Linked DNA regions of Homo sapiens: region 2 is linked to region 1. Evidence: fine-mapped expression QTL. A gene starts in region 1. The other region holds a variant in brackets. All regions are shown on one strand. Distances are from middle to middle.

Evidence for each region. PIP is the estimated chance that this variant, and not a neighbour inherited with it, causes the effect.
Region 2: its variant is fine-mapped to the expression of ABCA4 in nasal epithelium (TOPMed, PIP 0.96).

The regions. Positions count from the first base shown.
Region 1 is chr1:94,119,578-94,122,489 of GRCh38, reverse strand. ABCA4 (ATP binding cassette subfamily A member 4) reads left to right here and starts at 1,342. Exons shown (of 50, transcript NM_000350.3): 1 at 1,342-1,510. The coding sequence starts at 1,445.
Region 2 is chr1:94,019,798-94,022,709 of GRCh38, reverse strand. It overlaps ABCA4 (ATP binding cassette subfamily A member 4), which reads left to right. Exons shown (of 50, transcript NM_000350.3): 33 at 759-864; 34 at 996-1,070; 35 at 1,301-1,470. Among named protein-coding and RNA genes, the nearest start is that of ABCA4, 100 kb to the left of the region's middle. RefSeq lists an enhancer at 765-1,964. The variant C/A (reference allele first, on the strand shown) is at 1,679.

The sequences.
Region 1 (2,912 bases):
CCTCCATTCATAGCCTCATAGCCTTCACTCCAGCCATGTTTCACTTGTGGTTTTCCTGGGCAAGATAAGCTATTCCTCCCTGTCTTTGCAGAGTTTAAATGACTCACTTGTTCAAGTACCCACCGTTGCCATGTGGGACCGTGAGCAAAGTACTTAATCTCACTAAGCTTCACGTTCCTCATCTGTAAAACAGCAAATATGGACCTCACAAAATTGTAGTGAGGCTAAAATGAAATAACATATGCAAAAGCAGTTTATAAATAATAAACTTACTATAAAATATTATTTTGTAATTCTGCAAGCTTGTCTTAAATGCCATCACCTCCAAGGAGCCTTTTTGCCATCATAAGCAGAAACTATCTCTCTCTTCTTGGAAGCTCCACCATGCACAGCCTATGGGCCCTCATCACACTCCTTGAGTTATTCGAGTTCAAGTCCCGTGTTTACAACCAGACCGCAAACTCTATGAAGTCAGCATCCATTCCTCTCTGTGGTTCTCCCTCCGCCCCATCCAGGTCTCAAGGGTCTAGAGTCTTTCAAAGAGAACACATTCTGAGATTTGAGGAGGCAGAGACAAAAAGTTCCACTGCGAAGTGCCAGGGAGGCTTCTGTTTGGGGTGTCCCTTGGGATCACAGATCCCCCACCTGGTGATGAGTCAACCCAGCACCACCCCATTGCAGGGCTGGAATGACAGTAATGGGCCCACCTGCTGCCTCTCCTCATACCCGCACCCCAGTCAGACATTGCAAGTCAGTCACGGCTCTGTCCTGCTGGGCCTGGAGTGTTCCAGTGCCTTTTCCATCACAGCACCAAGCAGCCACTACTAGTCGATCAATTTCAGCACAAGAGATAAACATCATTACCCTCTGCTAAGCTCAGAGATAACCCAACTAGCTGACCATAATGACTTCAGTCATTACGGAGCAAGATAAAAGACTAAAAGAGGGAGGGATCACTTCAGATCTGCCGAGTGAGTCGATTGGACTTAAAGGGCCAGTCAAACCCTGACTGCCGGCTCATGGCAGGCTCTTGCCGAGGACAAATGCCCAGCCTATATTTATGCAAAGAGATTTTGTTCCAAACTTAAGGTCAAAGATACCTAAAGACATCCCCCTCAGGAACCCCTCTCATGGAGGAGAGTGCCTGAGGGTCTTGGTTTCCCATTGCATCCCCCACCTCAATTTCCCTGGTGCCCAGCCACTTGTGTCTTTAGGGTTCTCTTTCTCTCCATAAAAGGGAGCCAACACAGTGTCGGCCTCCTCTCCCCAACTAAGGGCTTATGTGTAATTAAAAGGGATTATGCTTTGAAGGGGAAAAGTAGCCTTTAATCACCAGGAGAAGGACACAGCGTCCGGAGCCAGAGGCGCTCTTAACGGCGTTTATGTCCTTTGCTGTCTGAGGGGCCTCAGCTCTGACCAATCTGGTCTTCGTGTGGTCATTAGCATGGGCTTCGTGAGACAGATACAGCTTTTGCTCTGGAAGAACTGGACCCTGCGGAAAAGGCAAAAGGTAACAGTTACTGTCTGTGGTTTAAAAATGAGGTGTGGAGCAAATAAACAGGTTGGAAGTGTGGGGTGGGGTGGTGGGGTAGGGTGGTGGGGCAGGGTGGGGGGTTGTGAGCAGTCAGTGGGCTTGTCGCCGATTAGCACTGAAGCAGTGTTTAGCTGGACGGCCTTTCTGTGGGCCCCTCTGACAGTGCCCTTCCCAGGAAGATGTGTTTCTCTGTCCTCAGCCACATGAAAATCTTTTGCCTACCGTGCCTGTCAATCCATTGCCTGCCCGCCCCTCCCCCACCCCCCGTTTTACACCTGCCTGTCCAGTCTACCGCTCTCTAGGGCATCCACGCTGAGCAGTGGGAAGAACTTTAAGCCCTGAAGAGCAGGCCAAAGGCAAGCAAGAACCCCCTCGAACAGCTTCCCAGCTTAGTGAGGCCTTATTTCATTGATTCTCTGAGGCACATTGTTTTTTCACATGTTAGCATTTCTGAAATTGGGATGCAGCTCACGATCAAGTCACAGTTTAACTGGACACATTATTTTTCTTTCTTAGTGGTGCAGAAAAGTAACAGTGTGTCTTACAATTGACTGCGTCCTAGATTCTGTGAGATGCAATACGTTATTAACCATCACGCACATTTCCTGAACTCTTTCAATGAGCAGACACCAGCCTGGGTTAGACTGGAGCCCTAAAAGCACGACACAGATTCCACCCTGGACTGGCTTCTGTTCTGCCTGGGAAAACCCAAAGTACGTTTGGAGACCAAGAGCAACATAAAGTAGCATAGGTGGAATAGTCCATGAGAAGTGCGAGCAAAAGGTGCCGGAGATCAGAGAACACCAAGACTGTACTTGTAAATGACAACTGGCTTTGTGCAATTTTTTCTGGGAAAGGATAAGGAGTGACTATAGAACTGTAAAGAAAGAATGCACTTTGCTACAGCCTTGCAGAGTTGTGCAAATGCCGATGACTAAAGGAGCTGAAAGAGGAAGGAGGGGATAAGGGATGGGGGCTGGGTAGGGGTGAGATTAGGACCCTGGGAGCTGCAAGCCACTGGAGAGATCAGGAGGAAAGGGAGGGAGACCTGCTTTAGGCGAGAAGAGAACAGTATTTGTTCCAAATCTCGGTTCAGAATAAGTTCATGTAGGTGATGGGGCCAACTGGAACAGGTGAAGGCCTATGAATGAGTGTCTCAGTTAGGGTCTCCTTAGAGTTTAATATGAAAAGGTGTTAGCTAAGTACAGAGCTGGTACCTGAGAGAGTAAAAGGAAACTCTAAGGTATCATGGAGGTAGCAATTGCAGGACACAGCTCCCACCCCTAGGGCTGAGAGAACCAAGGGAAGAGACAGGAATTATTAAGACTTGGAGCATAGATGAGAGGTCTGTGGAGCTGACATTAGGACTTGGGAGGAA
Region 2 (2,912 bases), 100 kb after region 1:
TATAACCAGCTAATTCATTCTGTTCTGTTGACTTTGGCTTCTGCCCTGCCTTTGAAGGGTTTGAGGCCAGGGAGTGATGCACTCAGACTGGTGTTTCCACACAGTCACTTCAGACTTCCAGGGCAGTACAGGAGATAGATCCCAGGGCCAGTGAAGAAGCAGAGCACAAGTCCAGGCAGGAGAGGCTAAGGGCCTCCCTGAACAGGTGTGAGGCACAGAAGCCCCGAGAGGTAGGGATGACAGGATGAAGATGGGTCCTGTGCTGCTAGAAGTACCTGCAAAGCACAGAGGTGGCACAGAAAAGGAGTCCTTGGCTGGGATGGGAGGAGATGACATGTGACATGTGAAAGAGGACCTGGAGTTGGCTCGATGCTCCCAAAAGGGAAAGGTGCCGAGGGGAGCTAGCAGCCATGCAAAGGCAGAGACATGCAGGCAGTCTGGGCCATGAGGAGCTCTGGAAGTGACTCGATATGTCCAGAATAGGCCACTCCAGGGAAGGGCTGAGGAAGGATGAAGTTGGAGAGGGGCACAGACCAGATGCAGAAGGGCCTCAGAGGCCAGGATGAGGGTTTGGACTCCTTCCTGGAGGCAGCAGCAGTGGGAAAAGAGTTAAAAGCTGGTTTGTAAAGTGGAGCCATGTTGCTCGCTGGTCCAGGCAATTCCCCCGAAAGTTCATGTTTCCCTACAAAACCCGAGAGAGCTACTAGTAGGCGTGAAGTTCGTGGCCCTGGTCTGAGGATTTCCTGTTTCCTTGTCAGGTATGGAGGAATTTCCATTGGAGGAAAGCTCCCAGTCGTCCCCATCACGGGGGAAGCACTTGTTGGGTTTTTAAGCGACCTTGGCCGGATCATGAATGTGAGCGGGGTATGTAAACAGACTGGAGATTTGAGTAGGATTTTTGACTTGCTTAACTACCATGAATGAGAAACTCTCATGAGTGATAACAGGAAAAAAAAATTAAAACCGTCTTGTTTGTTTGTTTACATGGTTTTTAGGGCCCTATCACTAGAGAGGCCTCTAAAGAAATACCTGATTTCCTTAAACATCTAGAAACTGAAGACAACATTAAGGTACTTGACCTATGTATAATCTGCTCTGGAGCTAAAAATTTACCTGAGCTGGTTATTTTATTTTTACTTTCCTACCTTCATTAAATTCCATCCCTCCTCCTGCTGAAATCTAGCAAGGAATGTCTTCCAGCTACCAAACCCTTCCTGCTTCTCAAATTTCCTTTCCTTCACTGATTTCTGCTTTAACTAGCTGTTAGTGCAGCGTCTCAGATGTCCTCTCCACCCTCTAGGTGTGGTTTAATAACAAAGGCTGGCATGCCCTGGTCAGCTTTCTCAATGTGGCCCACAACGCCATCTTACGGGCCAGCCTGCCTAAGGACAGGAGCCCCGAGGAGTATGGAATCACCGTCATTAGCCAACCCCTGAACCTGACCAAGGAGCAGCTCTCAGAGATTACAGTGTAAGCCACCACAGCCCCAGCCTCACCACTTTCTTGTCACCTTCTCCACTCTTTGAACATCCTGAGAGGATTCTCACCACCGCGAAGTGCTGATTTGGATGGTAATGCTGTTTAGTCAGGCACATATGAACATCCGACTTTCAAATAAGTGCCTCACACTTCACATACCAGACCTCTTGGTCATTCTTTCTCCCCAACATTTATGTGG[C/A]AAGTAAGTTTACATTTGGTTCCATTCCCTTTTGGCTTTTGATAGCAAGTTGCTCCTGGAGCTTATACAATTATTATCTTTGCTATGTGCAAAGCAGCTGCCAGGAACTGGCAAAGTTCAGTAAACCTTTCAGCTCCCTCGGAGTAATTATCTTAGATTCCAGGAATTTCCTCAGAAGAGCATACTTTGGAGATGTCGACAGAGCTTTGCTACCCTCAAGCTGAGGCTCTTCTTGCACAGTTTCAGCCAGTGGAGACAGTGGCCTTGTGCGTTTTGTAGTATGTTCACTCTATTTGAGGCCTACATGGAGGAGGGGTTGGTAGGAGCACCTTTGTTAGTGCAAACTTCAGCAACGTTGTGGGGTCCTGATTTTACTATCCTAGCACACGCTGAGTGCCAGTGAACATGCCCAGGGTCATCCACTAAAACCTGGGCCTTGGCTCCTTGGTGTCTTCCTCTGGACACCCTAGGGCCCTAGACTGTCCTCTGTTAATTCTCACTCAGCCACACTTTCGTGTGTCTCCTTCCAGTCATTTGTTCTAAGCTTACTACGTGTATGGATGATATGATCTGTAGTTTTATCAAGGTAGTGACTACCACATAGGATACCTTTGTGGAAATTAGTAAAAATGCTCTTTTCTGCAGGTGGACACTGTCCCATGCCAGGGGTTATGGCTTGTACATAAAGTTCAGGCTGGCTTTAGCCCCAACTTACCCCTCAGCCAGATGCCTTCTATTTGTCCGAGGAAAGAATAAATAGAGCCAAGTCCCTGTACAACTTGCCTGCCCTCTTTTCACTTAAATTTACATCATGAACATTTCCTTGTGTTACGATGTACTTCTTGAAAATGTGATTTAACAAGATGATTATTAACAAAAGATAAATCTCACAGACCGTATGTCTGTCAACATAGAAAATTCAAGAGACTCTATAGACAGATTATTAGAGCTAATGAGAGCATTGCAGTACATAAGATTAATATAAACATCTATTTCTATACACCATAAAAATAATTAGAGAATATAATAAAAAGAAAGGTTGTCTAGAAATATTCACATGAAATAGAAAGGCAACCCGCAAATACCCATTTAACCTTGGTCCATATGGATTAAGACAGTTTAGTGGAGTGACAGCTTCAAGGTAGAGAAGAGGAACCTGGAGGCCACACCTGGGCGGGTGTAAGGCCTTCCCAAAGCCTGACTTTGTATCTTCTCCTCCTTCTGCTCTTCCCTC